Linked DNA regions of Homo sapiens. The protein of the gene in region 1 interacts with the protein of each later gene in a biochemical or structural test. Each region holds a gene or a part of one and is shown in the gene's direction. Other genes may lie near its edges.

What was found.
Region 2: the proteins of METTL3 (region 1) and NCBP1 are reported together in a solved structure, tested with the Homo sapiens proteins (one study listed by BioGRID).
Region 3: the proteins of METTL3 (region 1) and EIF3H form a complex in vitro, tested with the Homo sapiens proteins (one study listed by BioGRID and IntAct).
Region 4: the proteins of METTL3 (region 1) and EIF3J form a complex in vitro, tested with the Homo sapiens proteins (one study listed by BioGRID).

The regions. Positions count from the first base shown.
Region 1 is NC_000014.9:21,508,326-21,515,736, reverse strand, and holds the start of METTL3 (N(6)-adenosine-methyltransferase catalytic subunit METTL3), read left to right. Parts: upstream 1-4,396; 5' UTR 4,397-4,513; coding exon 4,514-4,613; intron 4,614-7,411. UniProt on the Homo sapiens protein: The METTL3-METTL14 heterodimer forms a N6-methyltransferase complex that methylates adenosine residues at the N(6) position of some RNAs and regulates various processes such as the circadian clock, differentiation of embryonic and hematopoietic stem cells, cortical neurogenesis, response to DNA damage, differentiation of T-cells and primary miRNA processing.
Region 2 is NC_000009.12:97,664,821-97,671,820, forward strand, and holds part of NCBP1 (nuclear cap-binding protein subunit 1), read left to right. Parts: intron 1-1,942; coding exon 1,943-2,057; intron 2,058-4,025; coding exon 4,026-4,154; intron 4,155-4,772; coding exon 4,773-4,886; intron 4,887-6,265; coding exon 6,266-6,379; 3' UTR 6,380-7,000. UniProt on the Homo sapiens protein: Component of the cap-binding complex (CBC), which binds cotranscriptionally to the 5'-cap of pre-mRNAs and is involved in various processes such as pre-mRNA splicing, translation regulation, nonsense-mediated mRNA decay, RNA-mediated gene silencing (RNAi) by microRNAs (miRNAs) and mRNA export.
Region 3 is NC_000008.11:116,724,812-116,731,846, reverse strand, and holds part of EIF3H (eukaryotic translation initiation factor 3 subunit H), read left to right. Parts: intron 1-5,674; coding exon 5,675-5,831; intron 5,832-7,035.
Region 4 is NC_000015.10:44,554,121-44,561,155, forward strand, and holds part of EIF3J (eukaryotic translation initiation factor 3 subunit J), read left to right. Parts: intron 1-432; coding exon 433-547; intron 548-3,368; coding exon 3,369-3,530; intron 3,531-6,128; coding exon 6,129-6,202; intron 6,203-6,897; coding exon 6,898-7,029; 3' UTR 7,030-7,035. UniProt on the Homo sapiens protein: Component of the eukaryotic translation initiation factor 3 (eIF-3) complex, which is required for several steps in the initiation of protein synthesis.

The DNA.
Region 1 (7,411 bases):
TACTAAAAATACAATTAGCCGGACATGGTGGTACATGCCTGTAGTCCCAGCTTCTCGGGAGGCTGAGGCAGGAGAATTGCTTGTACCCGGGAGGGGGAGTTGTGGTGAGCTGAGATCGTGCCACTGTACTCCAGCCTGGGTAACAGAGCAAGGCTCCATCTCAAAAAAAAAAAAAAAAAAAAAAAAAAGTGAAGTATACAGTTAGTGCTATGTTTGAGATGGGGTCTCGGTATGTTGCCTAGGATGGTCTTGAACTCCTGAGTTCAAGGGATCCTCCCACCTCAGCCTCCAAAGCAGCTGGGATTACAGGCACATACCACAGCACACAGCCAATTAATGTCTTCTTTTTTTTTTTTTGAGACAGAGTCTTGCTCTGTCACCCGGGCTGGAGTGCAATGGCACTGTCTCAGCTCACCACAACCTCTGCCTCCTGGGTTCAAGCGATTCTCCTGCCTCAACCTCTCAAGTAGCTGAAACTACAGGCACATGCCACCGCACCTGGCTAATTTTTGTATTTTTAGTACAGATGGGGTTTCACTATGTTGGCCAGGCTGGCCTCGAACTCCTGACTTCATGATCCGCCCACCTTGGCCTCCCAAAGTGCTGGGATTACATGTGTGAGCCACCGCACCCAGCCTAGTGTCTTAATACTTACGTATTTGCTTATGATTCCATGGAGTGCCTGGTAGGATGGCTTGTCTATGTTCCATGTGGTGAGGACTGGGCTCACTCATGCAGCTTTCATCTGGACTGGAGAAGCCAAGATGGCCTCAACTTCTGGCTACTCAGATGGCTGGCTGGAATGCTGAACCCTCTCTCCTTACCATCCTTCATCCCCCAGGGTCTCTCTTTTTAAGTGGTCTATCAGGGTGACTGGACTTCCATGAAGGCCCAGGGTTCCAAGAGGGCAGAAACAGAAGCCGCGGCAGCACATCTGGAGGTCCCTCAGATCTGTCTCTTGCTTCAACAGTGTTTAGATGGAACAGACCCAGGGACTCTCTCTCAAAAATTAGAAACAAAACAAAACCAAATCCCGAAAGCTGTAATTCCTTTTAAGGTCTAGACCTCTTAAGGTCTAGAACTCAGGGAATATCTCTTCTGCCACATTCTTTTGGTGAAAGCTAGTCAGAAGCCTAGCTCAGATTCAAGAGGAGGGGGAATAAGCTTTACTTATTGATTGAAAGGGGGCAAAGTCACACTGCCTAAGGGCATGTAGGTGAGAGGCATTGTTGTGGCCAACACTGGAAGCAATCTACCATAGCAGATATGAGGAAAAGTTGAGAAGTGTAATGCATGCAGCACCCATCTGCTCAAAATTAGGCTTACACTCCATTTTGACTAGAAGAATTCTGCATTTTTCCCTCCTCCTCCTCCTCCTTCTCCTCTGTGTACTGCTGAGGGCTACGCGCGGACAAGAAAGCAATGTCTTTCTTTTGAGCAGCAAACTGGTCAAGAGGAGTCTAAAAAGAATCTCTCTACAAGAAGATCATGCTAAGAGGCCTTCCTGTACTTCTAAAATTTGCCCAATATGCCACTGTAATAATTTACCCAGAGTTAATGTGAAAGCAAAAACTTCTGGGAGCTGCCCTTGATTTGATTGACTTTCAGGAGTACTTGTGCTACTTCTTTGCACCACTGCCCTCCAGCAGTGAGAGTGAGGCTTGTCTCAATAAAACAAAAACAAAAAAACAAAGTTACACATCCCAATAGATAGTGTAAATTCCCTAAAAGTAAATTAAGTTCAGAAAATGAGATGGAAATGAGTATTTTCATCACTACTAAATCTCCATAGTATCTAACACATAGTAAACACTCAATACTTACTGAATGGATAAAAGTCATATTACAATACACATACATCTTTCAATAGCTCCCTTCATATTCACCCCTTCCTTTTCATTACTGTTCATAACCAGCTTTTAGTTACAGTTCTTCTCATCAGACACTTAGTTACAATGGACTAATAACCATCTTTGTCCTCTCCAAAATCTCCTTCCTCCTCACCTCAATTTATCTAGAACAGCAAATCAATTTTGAAACATTCCTATTTACAAACCCTAAGTGTTTCCTATTGTATTCTGAATAAATTGCCAAGTCTTTACTCAGGTACCATGTACCTTCTACAATCTGGCCTCAAATTTGGAAACCTAAAATTTCTCCCAATATTCCCAAATATAAATCTTTATGTTCTGGCGAACTAATCCAGATTGGCATAACACACATCACGCTTTCCTACCTCTAGTCTAGACCTTTGCCTTTATCATATTCCAGACCTGGATTTCCCTCCTATACCTTCACCTACTGAAACCTTAGTGGTCATTTTAAGCCTGAACCTTGATTCCAGCTTCTTTCCAATGCCTTCCTGGGTCATTAAACTTGGAGTCCTCCTCTTCTTTGAAATCACGTTTTTTTTTTTCCTGTTTTTTTGTTTTGTTTTGTTTTTGTTTTTTAAAAAGTCTATGCCCATGCTACCTCATGCTGTGAAGATGGTTCAGTATTAATAAACTGGCTCACAGCTCCTTGACCAGATTATAAACTCTTTGAAAACAGGAGCCATGCCAGTCAAACTATTTTTTGTATTTTTTGGACAACAGCGTATGGCATCATGTAGACATTGGATAAGTCAGTGATTCCCGAAATGTTTCCATTCAGGGAGCTCCATTAAAAAAACAAAACAAACAAACAAACAAAAGGCCAAGCCGGTGGCTCATGCCTGTAACCCCAGCACGTTGGAAAGCCAAGGCAGGCTGATGAGCTAAGGTCAGGAGTTCAAGACCAGCCTGGCCAACATGGTGAAACCCCATCTCTATTAAAAATACAAAATTAACTGGGCATGGTGGCAGGTCCCTGTAATACCTGCTACTAGGTAGGCTGAGGCAGCTAGAATCCAGGAGGTGGAGGTTGCAGTGAGCTGAGATCACACCACTGCACACCAGCCTGGGCAGTAAGAATGAAACTCTGTGTCAGGCCAGGCTCGGTGGCTCACGCCTGTAATCCCAGCACTTTGGGAGGCTGAGGCAGGGGGGCAGATCGTAGGGGCAGATCACGAGGTCAGGAGTTCGAGACCAGCCTGGCCAACATAGTGAAACCCTGTCTCTACTAAAAATAAAAAAAATTAGCCAGGTGTGGTGGCACGCGCCTGTAATCCCAGCTATTCGGGAGGCTGAGGCAGGAGAATCGCTTGAACCCAGGAGGCGGAGGTTGCAGTGAGCTGAGACCACGCCATTGCACTCCAGCCTGGGTGACAGAGTGAGTGAGACTCCATCTCAAAAAAAAAAAAAAAAGAAAATGTGTCAAAAAAAGAAAGAAAGAAAGGATTGTAGGAAAAACCACCACCACCAACCTTGTATTTAAGTTTACTACACATACAGAAAAGTGCACACCAAAATGTTCAGCTCAATTACATTTCACAAACTGAACACACTCATGCAGGTAGCTCTCATAACAAAAAACACAACGCAACCAGGACCTCAAAGCCCTCTTAGTGTCGGAACCCGATTTTAATAGATTACACGTACTTTGTAAATTTAGCCTAAGAGAGAGATCACGTATTTGAAGACCTCTCGGATTTTTCCTTCATCAGCCCTCCCCACTTCCCCACGCCTCGTCAACACAAAGAAGCATGCCCGCACCCACCACCGCCCCCTCCTCACCTCAGATTGGGGACCACCGTTGTGTTTTTTATTTTTTTGTAAATGAACGCATGGAAACAAACCAACACCACCTTCAGTGGAAAAGGTATGTTAGTACCAAACTGTCAAAAGGAACTAGTGATCCTTCATCTTAAAAATCTGTACTATGGCCGGGTGTGGTGGCTCACGCCTGTAATCCTAGCACTTTGGGAGGCCAAGGAGGGCGGATCACGAGGTGAGGAGTTCGAGACTGGCCTGGCCAACACAGTGAAACCCCGTCTCTACTAAAAATACAAAAAATCTGCCGGGCGTGGTGGCGGGCGCCTGTAATACCAGCTACTCGGGAGGCTGCGGCAGGATAATCACTTGAACCCGGGAGGTGGAGGTTGCTGTGAGCCGAGATCGCGCCATTGCACTCCAGCCAGGGCGACAGAGTGAAACTCCGTCTCAAAAAAAAAAAAAAGAAAAAAACCCCCAAAACTGTACTATATGGTGTTGCTCTCTACGAGTGCTACTTTAACACAAGTCAACTCTCAGGACTCCTCTCCGAATATTCAACATGGCCGCATGCGCGTCTATAAGCAACATGGCCGCTCTGCCAGTCACCAACATGGCAACCACAGCCTCACTGTGTCCGGAAGCATGAGAGAGCGGGTATGAGGACTATACCGGCCGCTCTGCCAACACCTAACGTGGCTCTTTATAGCTTCCAAGAAAGCGCGACACCGGAAATGACTTTTCTGTCTTGCTCAGCTCCAGGGGTCATTTTCCGGTTAGCCTTCGGGGTGTCCGCGTGAGAATTGGCTATATCCTGGAGCGAGTGCTGGGAGGTGCTAGTCCGCCGCGCCTTATTCGAGAGGTGTCAGGGCTGGGAGACTAGGATGTCGGACACGTGGAGCTCTATCCAGGCCCACAAGAAGCAGCTGGACTCTCTGCGGGAGAGGCTGCAGCGGAGGCGGAAGCAGGACTCGGGGCACTTGGGTGAGGCACTGGGCTGTTGGGGCCGAGGCTCAACCGGGGAGGACGGGCGGGATCCCTAGAGAAAAAGCTCCAGAGTCACTGCCCTTTACCAAACGGCCATTTCTATAAAGCCTCGTACATTGGTACTCCCTCTCCACCTTCAGCAGCAGACGTTCGCCCTTCTGCAAGTAGTTCGCGGTTCCTCCTCACGCTGGGCCTCGGTTCTTCCAGCTCACTTTTACCGGACGGACGCTTGAGCCCCACCCTCGTCCGCCTTGCCCACTCCTCTTCAGACTGCGAGGACGTCGCCTTTGTGAGGCTGCTCAGCCCCCTATCCCGCGAAGCAGCAAGAACCCCTTTTTGTTGCTGCTTTGGCGCTTTGTTCCCTCAGTTATAACGACTGTTTTGTAGTGGTCATTTCTTGGCAGCTGTGGGTACAGTAAGCGAGGAATGAACCTTTATATCCGCAGTGCCCAATTTAGTGGCCCGTACAGAGTGGCACTGGGTGTTTCTGAATGAGTACCCCTACCGGCATTGACTTAGCCATTTACATACCTAGCAGGAATCTGAAAACATTTGTGTTTGGTTTCCAAACTTTTTCTCTTCTCCTGTTGCCCCCGTGTCACGATCATAAAACTTGAAGGAAATTTAAAAGATTAAATTCACTGTTATCCACTCCCTACCCTCAGGACAAACTCTGAATTATTTAAGGCAAACTAGTAACAAAGCTCTGCAAAAATAGTGACTCAGTATCACCTTTGTGGTAGATTGTTCCAATATTTGTCAGTATCTTCAACTGCATCTCTAAATCTTGTCTAGATCATGTTAGGTTCATGTGCTCGTATTCTGGCCCCTAGAAATAGAAGATGCACTGGCAGGATCCTCCCACCTAATTAATTACCTTTCTTGAGTATCTACAGTGTTCATGGGTCTAATTAGACAAAAATAAGGAAGAAATTGCCCCTGTCCTCAAGAAGTTTAAAAAGCATAGGATTCAAGGGGAGACGCTTACAAAAAGTGAGGAATATGATAAGATATATGTACGAAACCAAATGAATGAATCTACAGTCTGTACAATGAAGAGAAGTAACAAGAGCTGGTGTAGGTAGTGAAGCCATCAAAACCATCATAGTGGAATTGGCACTTGAATTTGGCCTTTATGGCTATATAGGACCTAGATAATTAAAGAGGTAAGAGGGGAGGATAGTGGAGTAAGAAGTGCAAGTCATATGGTCAGGCAATAATTAGTAGTCAAGTCTCAGAGTAGTTCCTGAATTACCTAAGAGGGAGAATTTTTTTTCCCTTGCTCTAGAAACTTCATTGATTTATTTATAGATACAATTTTTTGTTTTGTTATGTTTTTTCCCCTATTCTTTGGTTTCCTGTTTTGAAACTTTTTAAAAATGTGCATAAATGATGCCAACGACTTTTTTTGCTTTTGTTTTTGAGATAGCGTCTCTCACCGTTGCCCAGGCTGGAGTGTAGCAGTCCTCCCGGCTCATCCTCCTGAGTAGCTAGGACTACAGGTGCATGCCACCATGCCTGGCTAATTTTTAACTTTTTAATAGAGATATGGTCTCATTATGTTGCCCAAATTTGTCTTGAACACCTGGCATCAAGCTGTCCTCTTGCCTAAGCCTCCCAAAGTGTTTGAATTACAGGTGAGAGCCACCATATCCAGCCTATTTAATTTTCCTGTGGAGTCTTTTCCCATTCAGCAATGGCAGTTGCAAAAGGGGACCTGAGGATCAGGTAGTTGTTTGTTTCAACAAAGTGATCTGCAAAATTATTTAGTTAGTTAGTTAGAGACAGGGTCTCCCTCTGTCACCCAGGCTGGAGTGCTGTGGCATGATCATGGCTCACTGCTGCCTTGACTTCCCGGGCTCCAGCGATCCTCCCACTTCAGCCTCTCAAGTAGCTGGGGCCACAGGCGTGTGCTACCATGCCCAGCTATTTTTTGTATTTTTGGTGGAGAAGGGGTTTCACCATGTTGCCCAGGCTGATCTCTAACTCCTGAGCTCAAGCAATCCACTCACGTTGGCCTCCCAAAGTGCTGGGATTACAGGCGTGAGCCACCATGCCTGGCCTACAAAATTAACTTTTAAAAAGCCGCTATATTGGTGTACTACATCATTGACTACTTTGTGTTCACCTTTCTGTCGTTTTTGTGACAGGCCATCCTCTATCTGTGGTGTTGTTTGTTGTTTCTTGGTTTTAATTGTTCCTCATCATACTTATTTATTTATTTTTGAGATGGAGTTTCGCTCTTGTTGCCCAGGCCAGAGTGCAATGGCGCGATCTTGGCTCACCGCAACCTCCGCCTCCCAGGTTCAAGTGATTCTCCTGCCTCAGCTTCCTGAGTAGCTGGGATTACAGGCATGTGCCACCACTCCTGGCTAATTTTGTATTTTTAGTAGAGACGGGGTTTCTCCATGTTGGTCAGGCTGGTCTCAAACTCCCAACCTCTGCTGATCTGCCCGCCTCAGTTTCCCAAAGTGCTGGGATTACAGGTGTGAGCCACTGTGCCCGGCATCATACTTCTTTATACTTTTCCATTTCTAAATTCATACTCTTTCAATGAATGATTCTAATTGCTCTTGGTCATTTTAAGTTTCATTTCATTTTTCTATGACATTAACTACATTTTGGTATTAACCAAACTTTCTGCTGTATGCAGACCTAACTACTAGAGCCTTGATACTTTGATCCAGGTCCTTGCTAAACATGTTTAATATTTTTGACAATAAGACTGTATTCTCCCTGCATGTACATATCCTTTTTTATTTTTATTTATTTTTTCTTTTTTAGATGTGAATATC
Region 2 (7,000 bases), on another chromosome or scaffold:
GAAGTAGGAGAAATCAAAGTCAAAGTAGAGTAAATCATGGAGGGATCCAGGAAAGCTTGGTGATTAACAAGACACCTGAGGGATGGGGGAAAGGGGTTCTCACCACAGTCATAATCTTAGGTTTAATGCAGAAGATTCATTCTGCCCTCATTCCCCCTAACGGAAAGAAAGTTTTTGCTGTTTGGTTCTTATTTATGAAGTTCACGGACTTTACAGCTGATAGGACCAGGGCAGCAGGAGTTGACACAAAGCAGGAAACTAAAGCAAATTACTTGTAAAAACATAAAAGTCCATCACAACCTTTAACTTTTCCACTGTATCTGTTACTGCCAGAGGACACTGATCAGAAATATACTGAATTGTTAGGGTGATAGGGTGTGATCTAAGGTTGTCATACCGGCCAGGTTGGCCTTCATAAACAAAGACAACAGAAGAACCTTTTCAGATTTGTAAACTCTCAGAAAACTAACCACCCGAGTATGTTTTAACCATTGTCCTGAGTGATTTACGTTTTCAATTCATTTTATCCTTACCGCATCACCGTAGAGAAGGTTCCATTATTGTCCACATTTTACAGAATAGGGAAGTGTCACAGAGTGCTTTATCCTGCCCAAAGTCACACAACTAAGTGCAGAGCCAGCATTCAAACCCAGGCATTCTGGAATCTGTATAGTGCTCAACAGCTCCATCTGTTCTTTAACACCTAGCTCAAATATTTGTAACTCTGCAAACCTTTCCCTGACTATAGTCCACCCCCTCCAGAGTTAAAGTGCTCTGCTCTTTTGTCCTGTTTCCTAACATTCTAGACTTGGAGTTTTATGAACAGATTGTTTTATTATCTTCCACTTAAACTATTATTTGGGTCAAAATTTGTAGAAGGAAGTACAGTTCACCCTTGAACAACAACAGGGGTTAGAGACACCGACTTCGCCCCACCCACCCCACCCCACACAGTCAAAAATCTGCATAGAACTTTTAACTGCATGGAAAATTTAACTAGTAGCCTACTGTTGACCAGAAGCCTTAGTGATAACGTAGTCAATTAACACATATTTGTGTTGTATGTGTTATATCCTGTATTCTTACAATAAATCATAAGAGAGGAAACATTCATGAAGTGAGAGTGGATCATCATAAAGGTCATCTTCATTATCTTCACATTGAGTAGGCTGAGGAAGAGGAGGGGTTGGTCTTATTGACTCAGGTGGAAGAAAACCCATGTGTAAATGGACCTGCACAGTTCAAACCTGTATTGTTCAAGGGCCAACTGTACTATTCTGTGCTGGGTTAGGAGACCTAGTTTATAGACACAAAAGTAGCTGAGAAGTTACTTTTTAAAAGAAAAACACTTATGCAACAAACATTTCAAAGCACCTACAAAGTGATCTTAGTATGTATTTGCTAGTAAGAAAGCTGACATATAATTATCTCATTCTTAGAGCCCATCAGTTGATACCTATTATCAACTAATGAGTTTCTTAAACATTCCAAGAGAATAATTGGCTGAGTGTGTGCTAGTTAAATAATATAAAGCATGGGAAATAAGTCTCAGGTTAGGTCACCATTTTGAGAAAATTTCTACACATAATGTTTACATTTAGGAGAGGAAAAATGTATTTCCATTTTTAATGTTAATGTCCATCATAGTTTGCCATTTCAATTCAGTAAGTATGTACCTCTGGTAAGGGATGGAAATAAGAAAAATGACTACACAGTGCTGCCCTCAGGGGGCTCGCCTGAATCTAATGGGTGTGAAGATAGATACTTGCACAATTTACAATAAAAGACCAATTTGTAAGTATTGCTGGAGAAAGATGACTAATTCAGCCCCAAGGACAGAAGGCTGTATCAGCTGTTAAGAATGAAATTACAAAAGTTGAAAGATTTTATTTTCTGTAACCATAGCTTGACATACAGTAACCAAATGCCATATTTCTTTAAGATTGTTTGTTTGGGAAATTTTGCACTCTACAATTCGTAAGATGAACAAACATGTCCTGAAGATCCAGAAAGAGCTGGAAGAAGCTAAAGAGAAACTTGCTAGGCAACACAAACGGGTAAGTTTTGTGTAAACTTGTAAGTAGTTAAAGAAAATATACCAGAAACTCTGGAGAGGATTCAGAGTTCATTATCTTGATGATATTTCATTTTTTCTGAGCCCAAATTAATGCAGAGCAGAAATTTTTCTGAGCCCAATTTAATGCAGAAGCAGAAGAGGAGGAAGGAGCAGGTAGTGTGTTGTGTGCTGTTACACTGCATGATGAACCAGTTCAGGAAGCCACAAACTTCACTTCCCATAGTTCACTATCTCTGGGTCGGCCTCACGTTTGCACAAGGGAAGTAGCAGAAGGGAAGAGGACACTTGTATTTCTGTAGGAGTCTCTGGGGGAAGAGGGAGAGGACTATAGATACTTAACACTTTCCCCGTACTGTGAGGAGGAATGGGGCAGTCATTCCCAAGTTAACGGAATACTTCTCATAGTATTAATTTAGTATTTTAGCCATTTTGGAGGGAAGCAGTGAGTGACTTAACATGATACTACTATTCATTATGAAAGTATTTTCCAGTGTTATGCATATTTACCATAGTAGAAGGTGAAAAAAAGTTGAGTTTAGTGCCCTATAGGAACCTTTCGCAAGTTTGAGTACCAGTCTCCATGTAGACATACCTGTATACATATATGGATATAAACACTCAGACCTGAAATACTGTAAGGTAAATGGTGTCATCTCATTTTGTAGATGTTATAAAGTGAGACATAGAGAAGTTAAGTAACATAGCTAGTAGGTTGCATAGCTGGTAAATGACCAGAGCTAGGTTCTGACACAGGTCTGTCAGACTCCAGAGACTTTTCTCTCATGCCACACTGTTTCTAGAAGTGTGCTGTCCAACACAGTAGCCACTAGCTGCACGTGACTATTTTAGTTAAATACAATTTAACATTCAGTTCTTTGGTCACACAACCATATTTCAGGTGCTCAGTAGTAACGTGTGGTTGCGGTCGTAACAGGCTGCACATATTTATATAACATTGGCCCCATTGAAGAAAGGTCTATCTATTAGGTAGTAGTGCTCTAGAACCTTACCTTTGAGTGGTGTTAGGAAAGGACAGTCGTGTACCCACGTGTCTAGAACATAGAGCAGACCTCATAAATGGGCTGTGTTTATAGAGAGAAAAGCAAGATTCTGTGATATCCGAGAGCAGGGTTCTGATAATTTTGCTTAAAGTGGAGAGATCAGTAGATGGGGCCTTAGCAGTTAAGTATTAACCTCGAAGAATTACCAGGCTTTCTAGATTCAGTGATGCCACCTTCTTGCTGAAAGTACCTTGGTATGTAACACCTTAGAGCCACGTTCTGGCTCTGCCACTTTCTGACTGGGTGATGCTGGGAAAGTCATCTAACCTCTCAGCCTTTTTTCTCTGTAAAATGGAAATAAACCATGCCTTGTTTTTCTTTTCCTTTAAAAAGAAAAAATTAAATTCTATAAACTCTTCAGAGTGAGCTGGGGGCAGGGATTATTAAAGCTTTACAGGAGTATATTGAGCCCATCATTGCCAGCAGAAAGTCTTAAACAGCCCACTTTGAATTATTATATGTCGGCTGGAGCCATTTCTAAATTATAACAAGAATGAGCAGCCTTGGCCCATAGGACTTGCCCAGTTTTTCTGTATGGCCCATTAGCAGATGAATGATTAGCAAGCTGTCTCCCTGTTGTTACTGCTCAAATGGTCAAATAGTGATAAATTGTAGCCAAGTCCCCCCATGTTGTTACCAAGACAAGTGCCACTAAATTTCCCTGGCCTAGATAAGAACCCATGGAATTTCTGAATGAGAAGACAGTGTCTCTGAACCACAACAGGACTTTGAGGTATATATGTGTGGGTGGCGGGGTGGGGGGGTACTTTCACTATAGAATATAAGTCTTAACATTTGGCCAGACACAGTAAAATGCTTCCCCTGGAGGAGATTTAACACACTGGAATCTAAATGGTATTTTCCTTTTGTTCATTTGCCTTCTATAGCGAAGTGATGATGACGACAGAAGCAGTGACAGGAAAGACGGGGTTCTTGAGGAACAAATAGAACGACTTCAGGAAAAAGTGGAATCTGCTCAGAGTGAACAAAAGAATCTTTTCCTCGTTATATTTCAGGTATCTTGGCTTGGGACATTTATACATAAAAGGAAACAATACATTTCTTTAGTTTTAGTTTTTAAAAATGTTATTTTTCATTGTAAAAGGAATACACATTCATTTATAGAAGAGATTAAAAATACAAAAATTTAGGAAGGAAATAAAAGTTCACTACTCAGAGGCAACCATGTATGTCTGAGTTTCTCTGCTGTTTACTTAGTATTCTCGCATGAGCATTTCTCCATGCTTGAAAAAAAATTGTGGGTTGCTTTTTTTATATATGTCTCGTTTAATTATTCCTCATTGCTGATCATTTTCCTTCCATGAACATTTTAATGCATAGATTCCTGTTAAAATTTCTGATTACTTCGTTAGAATAGATTCCAGGAAGTAATATTACTAGGATAAGTAATTTAAGACATTAAAGGTCTTTATGTATTGCCAGGAAGAATGTACCAACTCATGTTATTACCAGTCTGCCCTTCTAGGTTGACTTCATGAATAATGGAAGCTAGGCACACACACCACAAAGACAGGGTGGAACAGGCAATACTTTGGGGTTTCTTTGTCATGAATTTTTTTCCAAAGTATAAGATTCTGTCTGTAGTACTACCTTAACTTCTTCTCCCTTTCCAGCGGTTTATCATGATCTTGACCGAGCACCTAGTACGATGCGAAACTGATGGGACCAGTGTATTAACACCATGGTATAAGAACTGTATAGAGAGGCTGCAGCAGATCTTCCTACAGGTATGTGGGGAACTTCGATTAGGTAATAACACTATTCTCAGCCACAAAGATTTTTCATTAAAAAAAATCCTTGTCAAATTTGTTAGGAGGTTATATAGTACCTGTTAGACCCTTTAGTTCATGTCCATTTGCTGCTACCATTGCTCATCAGAATATTTAGGCTTAAACTGATTCTGTACCACTTAGATTCCTAATTGCCACCCCCCCAACAACCCCCCGCCCCACCTTTTTTTTGAGATGGCATCTCACTCTGTTGCCCAGGCTGGAGTTCAGTGACACGATCTCAGCTCACTGCAACCTCCACCTCCTAGGTTTAAGCAATTCTTCTGCCTCAGCCTCCCATATTGCTGGGATTACAGGCACCCGTCACTACTCCTGCCTGATTTTTGTATTTTTAGTAGGGACAGAGTTTCACCATGTTGGCCAGGCTAGTCTCAAACTCCTGACCTCAGGAGGCCTCCGCCTCCCAAAGTGCTGCTGGGATTATAGGCGTGAGCCACGGTGCCCAGTCTCCTAATTGTCATTTTCTATGCTGGGGATCCTAGCTGTAATATAAAATGTAGAGGACAAAAATATCAAGAGGACAGTAATTGGATTTATAAGTCCCTAAAAAGCCAGTGTTATCCAATGTGCAGGTGGTAAACTGTCCACAGAATCAAGGTAAGCTCCCTGGGGTCTCTCTGCAAAAGCAAAATGCCGGCACCTATTCTCACCTAGATTTAAGTTAAAGGTATATAGGAGAGTGGAGCTAATTCATTGTATCTTCGGACACTACTCCCCTAAATCTTCATTTGTTCATTCTAGAAGAATGATTAATGTAGAAGTCACTCTAAGTTCAATTCTTTGAGCCTCCAAATAGGAATTCCCTCTGATTTTATAGTTACTGCCAGTTTTAAAAGCTTTAACAGTCTCTAGTCCTATAAGAATCTCTGAGAGTATTCATGGCTTATAGAGGAACACATAGACAAGAGTATTTCGTTTTCTGACTGTTTATCTTCCTGTCAGTCCGTCTGGCTGCTTTTTAAAAAGTTACAATGTATTATGCCCTGACTGGGGAGAGAGCTAGCTGAGCCTAGTCCGTAATAGTACTAGGAGCAAGCAGGCACTGCTGCCACTGCCTTGAATCATGAATTCTGTTTACATAGAAGTTGGTAAGAACTGGATTTTTTAAAAAGCTATTGAGCATCCATTTTTTTCATTTCCCTTTTTATTTTTTTAATGTTGGGGATTTTCAGGGGTCCATTGTTCCTATCAGCACTTTTTTTTCCCCTTCCTCTTTTCATCATTCTGCAGCATGGGTGGGCTGCTGAAGGAAATGTTCCACAAGATTGCTTATATGCTTTTTCCTGACCTAACTACCCCCTTTTGTGTGTCCACAGCATCACCAAATAATCCAGCAGTACATGGTGACCCTGGAGAACCTTCTCTTCACTGCTGAATTAGACCCTCATATCTTGGCCGTGTTCCAGCAGTTCTGTGCCCTGCAGGCCTAAGGGTCATTTTTTCCTCATGTCAAGGTTTTTTTTGATATCTTAAAATAATTTGTCTTATTTTTTGATGGTTTGAATGCTTGCTTTCTTGTAGTATCCTTTCACTTCTTAAAGGAAACAAAGGGGAAGAGGACAGTGAATGAACATGGCATTACTTTTAATTGCCCTGAAAAGCAAATACTTCCTAACGGCAGTAATGTGACTATGACCATGATATATTATATATGTGACAGATACAAATTCTCTGTGATCAGTTTGTTATTTTTTTTCTCCTTAAGGCACAAAATAATTGGTTTGAGGTATGTGAAACACTAGAGGTCAACCTTACATAGTATATAGAACTGATGGGTTTACCCAGCTACCCAGTAGCATAACTTTTCACAGCTCGGGGATGAATTAACATGGCTGAAATAAAACTAAAAGTATGGTTTTTAAACTTTGGCATTTCATGATTTATCATCTCACTCTACTCTAAAACTGGTGGTTTCTTACTGAAGGTGTTCTCCATTTGAAATTTTATCTTCAAAGTATTTTTAAGTAGTATCTTTAAGACATGACTTGTTAGTAATAAAAGTGTTACTAGTTGGAAGAGTAGCTCTCAAATTTGTCTTAATGTAAATCACC
Region 3 (7,035 bases), on another chromosome or scaffold:
CTTGAGGCATAATTCATGGAAGAATCCTCATTTACCCACTAATTTATAGGGTAAACAAATCTAGTCAGCATCGGTTCTTAACAGTCTTAGATAACGGGGTCAGATGCTAAGGTGTAAGTCTTACTGTGCTGCAGAAAACATGAATGTTTCAAGATGGGTTGCTGGTATTACCTTCCCTCTTGTTTATATGCTGTAGAGATTGTTCCAACTAGGGCTTGAATTCCTCTTATTAGGGTGATATTTATGCTTTTATAAACAACATGTTCACTTTTGGGTCTGTATTTCTCAGTGCCTTCACTTTTCAGCAACCCACGAAGTCTTAAAACAGAGGAAAGGAAATTGGGGTTTGACCAGCAGTGTATTGTAGTCACCTGAGGAGTTACAACAAAACAAAAACAAAGGAAAGCTAGGCCATACAACTTCATTAGAAATTAGAACTAAATAGGATGTTAGAGTAAGTTGGAGAACTAAAAACAGACACCACCTACCAAACCCAGTATAGGAACCCAGCCGGTATCAGTTAGCTGAATTTCAGGAGTGTGCTCACGCATTAGTATACTTTAAAGCTCCCCAGATGGCTCTAATGTGTATCCAGAATGAGGACCCCTCTTCATTTATCTAAAAAAAGCTCTTTAGGTGATTTTGCTCAGCTGGGAATGAGTAAATAGGGCTCCTGAGTGTATATGTATCACAAATGTGGGGTCATTTGTGATACATATAAGCAAAATATAACAGGAGAGTGTTTTTGTTTTGAAGAATGGTTAAGCTTTCCATGTGTCTTTTTCAGCCTTGCTGTTATCAACATATTTGGTGCACTCAGTTTGGTATCACTCATTTATTGTGAAGTAATTAGAAGTGCTTTGGACTCAGAAGTCAGATCTCACTTCCCTGGCTAAATTCCCTGTCAGCTTATCTTTGTTTCCTTATGTAAAATGGGAAAATAATATAACTGACTTCACAGGGTGGTTGTAAGGATTAAATGAGTCCTTGCACGTAAGACGGTGGAGTGCTTGACATATCATAAGTGATAAGTGTTTGCCATTCATTCCTTCAGCAAAATATATTTTGAGTATCTTTTATGTGCCAGTATCTGTGTTAGGTGTTGAAGATGTGGTGAGTAAATCATCCTTTCATTTTTATGGGAACATTCACGAGGGGAAACAATGAGCACAACATGGATTCTGTCTCTATTAAAAGATACTTCGAATCTATGAAACTTTGAAATATATATACATGGCAAATTCTTGGTTATCTATGTAGAATAGCAGAAGTATGTATGTCATTTAGTTATATTTAATCAGGAATTTCCTTTCCTTTTAACATTTAAATCAGTGTCTGCAACCTTTCTGGCACCAGGGACTGGTTTCGTGAAAGACAGTTTTTCCACGTGGGGGGTTGCGGGGATGTGAGAGGATGGTTTCTGGATGACACTGTTCCACTTCAGATTGTCAGGCATTAGATTCTTCAAAGGAGCATGCAACCTAGCTCCCTTGTATGTGCAGTTCACAGTAAAGGTTTGTGCTCCTATGAGAATCAGTGCCACTGGTCACCTGACAGGAGACAGAGCTTAGGCAGTTTACCTCCTGCTGTGCAGCCAGGTTGCTATCAGGCCACAGAGCAGTTCCCGAGCAGTACCTGTCCGTGGCCTTGGGGTTGGGAACCCCTGCTCCAAATGAATCCTACTGTAAGGCATTTCCATGACATTACTTCTTGAACTAAAGAACTGAGGTTTTAGTGTGTATGTAGGAAATAGGACGATCATAAAATGTCACAATGAAGAATGAGCTAGCTTAGTTTTGATAATAGTGATTTTTTCCTGAGTACTTTATCAGATTATATTAAAATGACAAGATCATAAATATTAAAGTTGGAAATTATTTTAGTGATTGAGTCTTTCCTGAATGCTTTCTTTTTTGGACAGCCTTCAGTACTAGAGAGAATTTATCCTTAGAGTTGAAATCTTCTTTCCAGAAACTGTCACCTGTGGTTCTTAGGTTTTGCCTTCAAAGTAAGACTAATCCTCTAAGCAGCCAAAGAACTCTTCAGTATTTGGAAAGTGCTTTTTTTGAGTGTCCCTTGCCTAGAGAGAGATTTGCATTAATTTTACTGGTTCTCATCACAGGATTTTAAGCTTTCTCTCTTGTAATTACCCTTTTCTGTGGATTCTTACTCATACTGATTGTTTTTTGTGCTTTTCTCATTTCTTAGTTTGGTACTGTTACTGGTAAATTTTCTCTTGGGTCATTGTAAAGAACTGAGGATAACAGTTCAGTGATGTCGAAAGAGCGAGATAATTATTTCTTTTACTTGGAGCGCTGTATTCTATTGATACTACATAAAATTGCATTGGCTGTTTGGCAAGCATGTCAAGCCTGGTGTGCTGTTTGGTTACATTATCCTTACTGATCCCTTTAGAATTCACTTTTGTTAGAGTTAAGACAGTTTTCAATATAGTTTGAACTGTAATAACTTGTTTTAAAATATATTAATTTTTTTATTGCTATTTTCTTCATAACTGGAAATGAGGTTATTTTCATCTGGCTTCTTTATGAAACTGTGCTGGTCCTAGTCACCAGTATTCCCTTTTGCATATGTAGGAATCAGCTGTTTAGGAATCACTTCTAGAATTTGTCTGAAGAACTATGTTAAGCTCATATATCTTCTAATATCTCTTGTTTACTTTGATTTCAGTAGTGGTTTAGCAATCTCATTAGTAGGGGTAAGTATAAAGGAATCTAGGTAACCTAGGTGAATTGGTAGTTGTGTTTGTAATAACTCTTTATCAGTTTAGTTTATCCCGTCTTGATCACCTGTATTTGTTCTATTTTTTAAGTGTAGAAATAATTTTTCTTGGCAGAGAGGTATGTTGAATAAGCATTAAATAGTTATTGACAAATATCAACAATATTGGTCATTTATTGAGCACTTACTATGTGGCAGACTCTGTGCAGAGAACTCTATACTGTGTCATTTTTAGTAGTGTCAGTAATGCTATGAAATAGTGCTATTTTGCAAATTAGAATCTAAGGCTTGAGAAGATTAAATAGCTTTCTCAAGGTCACAGCTAGTAAATGCTGGAGCTGGAACTCATACCCATACTTGTATGACTCATCAAGTCCATTTTTGTGCCTTTCAAGAAGTGGAGAGGTCTTTCATACAGGAATGTGTAGGTTGTGCACTTTCATTTCGTAGTATTGAAGGTCTGCCAATCTTATTAGTTGGTGTTACTCCATTTTGAGCTCTTTTCCCTGCTGACTGCTTGCTCTCCTTTGGAGTTCTGTATCTTACTGGTGTAGTCTTTTTGGGTCTATTCATAACACAGTTTTTACTGCATATCTGTTGTCTATTACTACCTGGTTATTTTAACTATCAATTTAGTTACTAATATGAAAATCATCTCCCAGGTTTAAAAACTAGGTTTAAAAACCTACTTTTAAACCTAAAACTAGGTTTAAACTAGGTTTAAATCTTGGCTCTACTACTTCCTAGATGTGTGACCTTTAGCCATTTACTTAATTTCTCTCTGCCTCAGTTTTCTTATCTATAAAATGAGTATTAACAGTACCTTTCTCCTAAGGTGGTTGTGAGAATTACATGATAGGGTAATACATGTGAAATAATTAGATTATTGCCTGTCATACAATGTTTAGTAAATGTAATGTGCTGTTATTAACTGGTCATTAGTTTCTTTTTTTCTTTCATAATTGGTTTATTGGTCGTGTTGATGATCAGTACACAGACATTTCAATTTGTACACAATTCTTAACATATATACTGAAAATCTAAAAAGCCATGTGTTGTAATTTTTAAAAAGTTATTTCAGTGACTTTCCAGCTTAAAATTGGGAAGCAAATTTTCCATAAGAGGCTATCAAGTACCAGTATCTTCACATGTTAGTAAGCTGTTACATAGATCTCACCAATTCACAGTATAATACCATATAGACTACATACTCAAATTTTCAATCTTCCACAGCACATTAACAAAGTTCATTAGAAAAGCAGGACTACCACGACCAAAGATGTTACAGTGCACAGAATTATGACAGGGAGAGCCATGATCAAAGAGTGTTTTTCTTTAGGAAACAATTCTACTAAAAAATAATGTGGGAATGAAAGTAATTTAAAATGTTCAAGACATTAAATGCAGGACTGCAACTCCATATTGCCATTTAGTATGCTTTGTATTACAGGATATAAAAACTAACCCCCCAACTATGGAATGTTAAGCTGACACTCAGGACAGTCAAACCCTCCCATAATTCAGTATCTCACACAAACCTGTGTTTACAAAATAGTTGGTAACAGTATTCCTCTGGGTTGTACAAGATGGGAAATAGGGACCACTGATAAGATACAGTGTGTTATGATATCAGTCAAACTTGGCTTCTTTATCTCTGGCGTCATCAGAGGCTGGACTCTTCTCAGTTTTAGTTTCTTCGTTTTGTGCAGGTAAATTTCTTTAGTTTCCTGGTTAGCCACTTTGGCCTGTTTTCCCTTTGCTCCCTTTTTCCCTTTGTTTGCACTTTTTTGTCTGAAGATTTATCCTTTCCTGCTGCCTTTTTTTAGCTTCGTTTCCACTTTGGCGGGAGCAGGTTTAGCTGACAACCGCATTGATTCTCTCTTAGGCTGTTTCTTCACCATCCGTGTGGCTGAGCTGACCTGTGGGCTCAGGCTGCACACAGAAGTAGCTGCTCACCCTGTGTGTGCCTGGCCCACCCATTACTTCGTTTCTAACAATAATATATTTGTTTTAAATGAAACACTAATAACGTACAAATAAATTGTCATTTTCTTGTTAGAATTATTTTTCCTCTGAGAACTTTACATTACAATTTTGAATGTGTTGCCTTTTGGGTCTTCAGGCCATGGGCTCATATTAAATATTAATGCTATTATTATTAATATGTGCCAGGCACTATAAAACACTTTACATATATTAACGCCATGTTGTAGGAATTATTAATGATTATGATTATTGCAGACTTTAATTTCTTGTCCACCTGTGCACGGTGTTACCTCTTATCTTTATGGGAATATTAAAGGAGAGAGTAGTAGAAGACCTGGTTATTCCATTAGAGGTTGCTTAGTGAATCCTTCTGGTTGAGGAAAACTAGATCATGCTGGAGACTATACCAACCAGATTGTTGTTGGATATGTGTGGGTACGTGTTCCCGTTGTTGCATCCTCTGACTATGGAGATGATCTGTTGAGAAAGGCAAAATGAGAATTTATCAGAAGGCTCTGCTTTCAGGTGTCCCGATAATTGAGACCTTTATCTCTGTGTCTTATTGATAGTTTTGTCATTTATGTGTCTATTAACAGGATCACTTTCTCAATAATAGCCTCAGGTTGAGGGGGTATTCTTTGATTTGGCTGAAGGAACTCCTGGATGCCAGACCATGGGGAAGCTTTGATTTAAGAGCATAACTGCTGTAGATGGACGTTTTTGACATGTAATCAAACTCCTGGAGTTTCAGATCTGCGTTTAGATTATGTGAGCTTTATTATTTATGTAAGGGTAAAGGAAAGGATTTGTAAGACATTTATTTATTCCTCTTATTTAATTTGTGGTTTTGCAAACCTAGTACAGTTTCTTTTGTTTTTTCTTAGAAATAAAGGAAATAATAAACTAGGATGGTTGTTAAGCTCCCTTCTGTGTGTGTATGTTTTAGGTGGTATTAAAGATAATCAAACATTATCAAGAAGAAGGACAAGGAACTGAAGTTGTTCAAGGAGTGCTTTTGGGTCTGGTTGTAGAAGATCGGCTTGAAATTACCAACTGCTTTCCTTTCCCTCAGCACACAGAGGATGATGCTGACTTTGATGAAGGTAAGGGTGTTCATCACAAGTGTGTCTTTGCAGTGCATACAAATGGATATTGACACAGGTCTCACCATAACTTTTGATAATGTGTGAATTGGGAATCTGTCAGGCTAGCCTACTTCACTTGATGTCTGATACTTTGGGAAAATTATATAAATTCTGGGAAATGAGGGTTTATACTATAGACATCATTAGTTTGGCCTTTACTTATTTGGAATTTGTGATTCTGATTTGTCATAGATTGGATAGGAACTGTGCTGATGTTGACTTTGTCAACATGAAATCAGCTTGCTAAATAAAGTTTTGAGGGACAAAGATCATCCTTATGTGTCTGTTATCCATTCCCTTCTATCCTCTTTTGAATAAGTCAGTGTTTAGAAAGAGATGGAGTTCAATTTTCTGCTTCAGAAAGAAGATACTCCTCAAGCATTTCAGAAATTTTATTTTTGTACTATAGGTGTAGTTCCTTTGTTAGCAAAGGCTGAGAGTAGTTAAAAGCTCACATCAAAGGCTAAAATCAGCATCTAGAAGATTTTTTAAAAATCAAGTTGAAAATAACTTCTCACTTGTTTGAAATCCCTGGTTTCATTTTCTGTGTAACTTTTTATTGTAAAAAGCACATAAAAATTTTAAGTATACATTACAGTAGTGTTAAGTGTATGCATATTGTGCAGTAGGTTTCTAGAACTATTTCATCTTGCAAAGCTCAAACTCTGTATCCATCGAACAATCCCTTTTTCCACCTCTTTCATCCCCGCAACCACCATTCTACTTTGTGTTTCCAAGAGTCTGACTACAGATACCTCATGTTAGTGGAATCATGTGGCATTTATTATTTTGTGAGTGACTTATGTTATTTAGCATAATGTCCTAAAAGTTCATCCATGTTGTAGCAATGACAGGATTTTCTTCTTTTTTCTTAAGGCTGAATAATAATTCATCATCTGTATATACCACATTTTCCTTATCCAGCCATCTGGCGATGGAAGTTTAGGTTGCTCCCACCTGTTGGCTATTGTGAATAATGCTGCAGTGAACATGGGTGTGCAAATATCTCTTCAAAATCCTGTTTCCATTTTCTTTTGGATATGTACCCAGAAGTGGTATTACATGGTAATTCTATTTTTAATTTTTTGAGGAACTTCTGTATGTTTTTTTTAATAGCAGCTGCACCATTTTACATTTCCAACCTTGCACAAGGGTTCCAATT
Region 4 (7,035 bases), on another chromosome or scaffold:
AATCCCAACACTTTGGGAGGCTGAGATGGGCGGATCACTTGAGGCCAGGAGTTCAAGACCGGCCTGGCCAACATGGTGAAACCCCATCACTGCTAAAACTACAAAAATTAGCTGGATGTGGTGGTGCACGCCTGTAATCCCAGCTACTCGGGAGGCTGAGGTATGAGAATCACTTGAACCCAGGAGGCAGAGGTTACAATGAGCGAAGATCATGCCACTGTGCTCCAGCCTTGGTGGCAGAGTGAGGCTCTGTCTAAAAAAAAAAAAAAAAAAAAAAAAACTAAAGTGTTTAGAAGAATGCCTGAAACAGTAATTACCAGTGTTCACTTTTATTTGTTATTATATACGCTTATTTAAGAATTCGTACAATACAGAAAGGTACTGAGTGCATCATAATCCCTGTGCTTTTTAAAAACTTTTGTCTCATTTTAGTTAGAAGAACCCGAAGAACCTAAAGTGCTAACACCAGAAGAACAATTAGCAGATAAACTGCGGCTAAAGAAATTACAGGAAGAGTCAGACCTCGAATTAGCAAAGGAAACTTTTGGTAAGACGGGATTATGATTGCAATACAGTATTAAACTGTTACAGGTGAAGACCCAGAAAGTTCAGAAAACATCTCCTTTTCTTAAAAGAAACATACTGGCTAATGTAGATATTAGAAAGCAGTTTTTAATCTCTGTGTATATTTGAGATTTCATTACATGTTCAGATTTTTGAATAATTGTTTTGAGTAAAAGATTATTAAGATAAGTCATTTATAGCAATGCAAGAAGGGCAAAAAGGAGTAGACTCAGATGAAGTACACTACTGCATAGAATATTTTTATCAGCTGGATGAAATTTGCATGAAATGTGAGGTCTGTAGCTTTGAAATGGACTGTAGGGCTGTCCTGTTGTCTTAAGACTTAGACAGTAGGATGTTGCTCCAGGTGAGAGGCATGCAGCTTTTGCTGTGCCTTCTTGTGCTCAGTGTCATTTCCTTCTGCAACCCTTCTTTGCCCTTACCATGCCCTATCTTTAGAGGGCCTCCATTTCTTTGTGCGGTGTCTGCAGCTGTGGTTAGTGCGTGAGATAAAAGTGCAGGATCCTATAAATAGATAAATTCAGAGTGTTCCAGAGTAAGAGACATGGCTAGAGAAATAGTCAAAGCCCTCGCTTCATTTAACCAAGTTATCGTTACCTGTTGAGTACTTTTCAGAGTAGAAGATCATGTTGAAACAGTTAAATCACTGAAATTTATAACCAAGAAGGAAAGCTCTAGTTATTCTGATACCCCTCCCCCACTTTCATACTTTCTCTACTCTGAAACAGATCAACAGGCTGACTGTAGTGATTGTTTTCCTTTTCATGAGGAAGTATGACCTTATCTGTCAGTGGATCTGTACAAATACCAGGAGTTGATGTGAATGCTCCTGTGCACCATTGTATGCTTGGCAGGTCTTAACTGCACTCATCTAATTATAGAGAGCTCTTGGCTGTTAATATGTGTCTTCCTAGGATGGTAAAAGCTGCCCATGTGTTTATTAAAGAGGCAGGTTTATGAAGTGTGCATAAAGCCTAGCATGGGACACCTGTTATAGACTAAAAGGTAAAAACATGCATTCATATAGTCATTGTTAATAGGATTTTACTGTTGTGTTTCTCATACTAAAATACCACATGTAATATTGTTAATAACTAATCTACTTGACATGGAGGATACAGAAGCATACTTATCTTAGTGTAAAACTCATCTAGGCCAGATTTTTTTTTTTCTAACAGGGTCTGGCTCTGTCATCCAGGCTAGAGGACAGTGGCTGAGATCGGCTCACTGCAACCTCTGCCTCTGGGCTCAAGCCATCCTCCCACCTTAGCCTCCCAAGTAGCTGGGACTACAGGCGCATGCCACCACGCCTGGGTAATTTTTGTTTTTTGGGGCTTTTTTTGTAGATACAAGGTTTCACCATGCTGCCCAGGCTGTTGTTGAAGTCCTGAGCTCAAGTGATCTGCCGCCTTGGCCTCCTAAAGTGCTGGGATTACAGGCATGAGCCACCATGCACAGCCTAGGCCAGATTTCTTCTATTGGGATTTAACATGTTTACCCCCGCTTAGCTTCTGGAGTTAGACAAATACTTTCACAGGATCCATCTTTGTTTCTTATTCTTTTTGTTCCCTCTCTCCCCACTTTACTGTGGGGGTGTTCTTGGACAAGAACAGAGTATCCCTTTTGTAATGTAATATGTTGTGTTTTGTTTTTAGAGAAAGGTTCTTGCTCAGTCATCCAGTCTGGAATGCAGTGGCATGACCATAGCTCACTGCAGCCTCAAACTCCTGGGCTCAAGCAATCCTCCCACCTCAGCCTCCCGGGTAGCGAGGGCTACAGGTGAATATCACCACACCTGGCTAATTTTATTTATTTTTTTGAGACAGAGTCTCACTCTGTCACCCAGGCTGGAGTGCAGTGGTGCAGTCTCGGCTCATTGTAACCTCCGCCTCCTGGGTTGAAGTGATTCTCGTGCCTCAGCCTCCCAAGTAGCTGGGATTACAGATACATGCCACCACCATGCCTGGCTAATTTTTGTATTTTTGGTAGAGACAGGGTTTCACCATGTTGGCCAGGCTTGTCTCTCGGACTCCTGACCTCAGGTGATCGGCCTGCCTAGGCCTCCCAAAGTGTTGGGATTACGGGTGTTAGCCACTGCGTCTGGCCACACCTGGCTAATTAAAAAAATTTTTTTTGTAGAGATGAGGTCTTGCTGTGTTGCCCAGGCTGGTCTCAAACTCCTGGCCTCAAGCGATCCTTCCTCTTAGGCCTCCCAAACAAAACACTGGGATTACAGGTGTGAGCCACTGTGTCTGGCCTTGATATATTGTTTTTAAATGAATAAAATACTTATTTATAAAGAAAACCTGTTATATATAAATAGATGTCAAAATACTAAAATGACAAATTTGTGATACAGAATTATATGCTTCCTTATCGATGCATTAAATCAGGTGTAGTGGCACGTCAAATAATGTCATTTGAGAGTAATTATGACTGAACAATATTAATATTGTAAGATATCTGTAATGGCAGGAGAGTGTGATCTCTCCTGGTAAGTCAAGTTTTGCTAATACCACTGTGATTTGTTGCCAGTCAATTGAAACTGAAGGAAATGCTGAATTAGAGGTTAATAAAGATGTAACTTTTTTTCTGATTTAAGTTTGTAACCCCCCTCCCCCCTCACCCAGCCATTCTATCCAGTGACTCCAGTGGCTCCAGGTTCAGAGCCCCTGCTTTAGAATGAAACGACAGGGTTATTCAGATAGCTATTGGCTTTGTAAGGTTTCATTTTTAAAAATCCTAACCTCCTGATACTTTTCAGTGCTTCTTTTCTCCTACAGGTGTTAATAATGCAGTTTATGGAATAGATGCTATGAACCCATCTTCAAGAGATGACTTTACAGAGTTTGGAAAGTTACTAAAAGATAAAATTACACAATATGAAAAGTCACTATATTATGCCAGTTTTTTGGAAGTCTTAGTTCGAGATGTGTGTATTTCATGTAAGTAATTCTAATTTCTAGCCCCTCTGGGTAGATTTTTAGTAGGATGTTCTCTTCAGGAGGTTGAAGGTTATTTTTTATTTTCAAGGATACTATAATACAGACTCATGATTTGCTGTTTTTAGCAATTACCTTGTGAATGTTGTTCTGCAGATACAGTGAATTTGAGTGCTGGATCTTTTTGTTTGTTTGTAGGGGTAAGAGGACTTCTTGTTTTACAATGGCTTCCCTAAGAGATACCTGGGCTTGTCAGCAAAGCAGCTAATAAAACACTGGCCTATTCTTTTTATCTGATTATCACTTGAGAGGGGCTGGGAAGTATCTTTTGAGGGAAAAGGTCTCTGGCACTGTAGGATTTGGGTTGGGTGAGACTTCAGCCACTGTCTTTTACAAATCAGAATTAGACAGGGTGCAAGTTGAGTGACAGGGCTGGCACCTATTCTCTGGGTCCGTGGTTGTGGTGCCACACCTTGATAGGAGTCATACATTTCAGGGCAGGGTGAATGGGAGTGACAGCCATGGGTGGTGAAGCAGGAATGTATGGAAGGGACTGGTTTTGCTAGTATTTGCAGTTTTTTTGTTGTTGTTGTTTTTGTGATGGAGTCTTGCATTGCAGAGGCACGATCTCAGCTCACTGCAACTTCTGCCTCCTGGGTTAAAGCAATTCTCCTGGTCTGGCGCAGTGGCTCATGCCTGTAATCCCAGCACTTTGGGAGGCCAAAACAGGCGGATCACGAGGTCAGGAGATTGTAGACCATCCTGGCTAACAAGGTGAAGCTGAGGCAGGAGAATGGCATGAACCTGGGAGGCAAAGCTTGCAGTGAGCTGAGATCGTGCCACCGCACTCCAGCCTGGGTGACCAAGTGAGACTCCGTCTCAAAAAAAAAAAAGCAATTCTCCTGCTCAGACTCCTGAGTAGCTGGGATTACAGGCGCCTGCCACCACGCCCGGCTAATTTTTTGTATTTTTAGTAGAGACGGGGTTTCACCATGTTGGCCAGGCTGCTCTGGAACTCCTGATCTCAGGTGATCTCCCTGCCTTGGCCTCCCAAAGTACTGGGATTATAGGTGTGAGCCACCACGCCCAGCCTATTTGCAGTTTTTAAGATGGAGAAAAAGGAATCCTACACAATGAATTGGGTTTTCTTTGATAAATTATCACTAAGCTGAGGGTTCTACATTTGATTGGTAATGTGCCCAGAGTTGATATTTTATTCTGCATGTACTAATTTTTTTCTGGTTTTTGGAGGTGTTCTCTAACCAAAACTGAACACTTTCTGGTAGCTAAAAACTGGTGTCTCTTTCCAGCTTCATATTTTTATAAGGCTGATAATGCTGTCCACTGAACAGGACTATTTCTTGGTAGGACATAGAGATGGTCACTGTTCTCATTGTAGTTCCCGTGCAAGAAAATGGAGACATCATGGGATAGGGTGTTGTCATTGTAGGTTTAAGAATTGTCATTCTGGCCGGGCGTGGTGGCTCATGCCTGTAATCCCAGCACTTTGGGAGGCTGAGGCTGGTAGATCACCTGAGGTCAGGAGTTTGAGACTAACCTTGCCAACATGGTAAAACCTCATCTCTATTAAAAAAAAAAAAAAAAAACACAAAAATCAGCTGGGCATGGTGGCACGCACCTGTAATCCCAGCTACTCGGGAGGCTGAGGCAGGACAATCACTTGAATCTGGGAGGTGGAGGCTGTGGTGAGCCGAGATCACGCCACTGTACCCCAGCCTGGTGACAAAGCGAGACTCTGTCTCAAAAAAAAAAATAAAATAGGCCGGGTGCGGTGGCTCACACCTGTAACCCCAGCACTTTGGGAGGCCGAGGCAGGCGGATCACGTCAGGAGATCAAGAGCATCCTGGCTAACACAGTGAAACCCCGTCTCTACTAAAAATACAAAAAATTAGCTGGGCATGGTGGCGGGCGCCTGTAGTCCCAGCTACTCGGGAGGCTGAGGCAGGAAAATGGTGTGAACCCGGGAGGCGCAGGTTGCAGTGAGCCGAGATCGCGTCACTGCACTCCAACCTGGGTGACAGAGTGAGACTCCATCTCAAAAAAAAAAAAAAATAATAGTAATTGTCATTTCATGTTTATTTGTCTGTTCTCCCTGATTACTGGGGGTGTGTTAATGGAAGGGCATGTTATCCTCCCCCATTTGTTTAGACTGAGGAAGGATAGTAGGGAGCATTGTGAGCTATAAAGACAGTTTCTCTTTGGTTGAGCAATGGTGTGTTGGTGATTACAGGTCGTCATTATAAATAAAATGAATTTTGTTTTCAAGAGACAGGGTCTAGCTGTGTTGCCCAAGCTGGTCTCGAATTCCTGGGCTTAAGTGATCCACCCACCTAGGCCTCCCAAAATGCTGGGATTACAGGCATGTGCCACTGTGCCCGGCCACCTTACGTTTAAAGAGGAGAAATTCATGGTCCTTTCAAAGTTACTGAAGTTTAACAATGAACAAATTGGATTTCTCATAACACTTTTGGAATGTACATTTTGGGATATATAGATATATATGGAATGTACATATTTAGCTTTAACTTTTCAAAATGCTTAAAAATTCAAGTTTAATGGTATGCCCTTTTTTTTTTAAGTGGAAATTGATGACTTGAAAAAAATTACCAATTCACTGACTGTGCTTTGCAGTGAAAAACAGAAGCAAGAAAAGGTAAGAGCAAGCTGTGTAGGGAAATGGGTATTAAATTAGAGTGGGGTTATAGGTCTAACAGTCAACAAATATAATAGGAGCCTGTCCTAATTAAAAGTCAAGCAACTCACTAATACCATTTAAGTTAGACTAGAAGAGGAGTATGGGTGCTATTACTGTCCTTTTGTTTCCAGACATGTTCCCCTTTTCTGAGTTAATAGAAATTGCTGAAATCACAGACTGGGTTCAAATACTAGCACTGCTACTTAATAGGTATAGGTAAATCAGCTTTTCTAAGCTTCAGTCTTCTCCCTTCTAAAATAGGAACAATAATACTCACTTTGCAGAGTATTTATAAGAGTAAAGTAAGAGAAGTATGTCAAGTAAAGGTTAGAGCTTTGTGATTTTAAATTGGGGGGTACTTATCCACACTTTTCTAAATTTGCTTCAGTGAAGTTAAGGCTGTCTACCAATAACTTATAACCCCTGCTGGTGGGCTAGGTATCCAGAGCAGGACCAAGGACCCAGATCAAGTTTTGGAGAGACTGACTCTGGGAGACCTGTTCAGGTCCAAAACATGTAGGCTCGGATGTCCCTTACAGAACTAGTGTTTCTGGGACCAAAGGTTTTTGTGTGTTTGTTTATGAGGGTTGCTGTACCAGATAAGATGCCCATAGCACACTAAGGTTCATGAATTAACTCTCTTTCATCTTTAGCAAAGCAAAGCCAAAAAGAAGAAGAAAGGTGTGGTTCCTGGAGGGGGATTAAAAGCCACCATGAAAGATGATCTGGCAGATTATGGTGGTTATGATGGAGGATATGTACAAGACTATGAAGACTTCATGTGACATTTT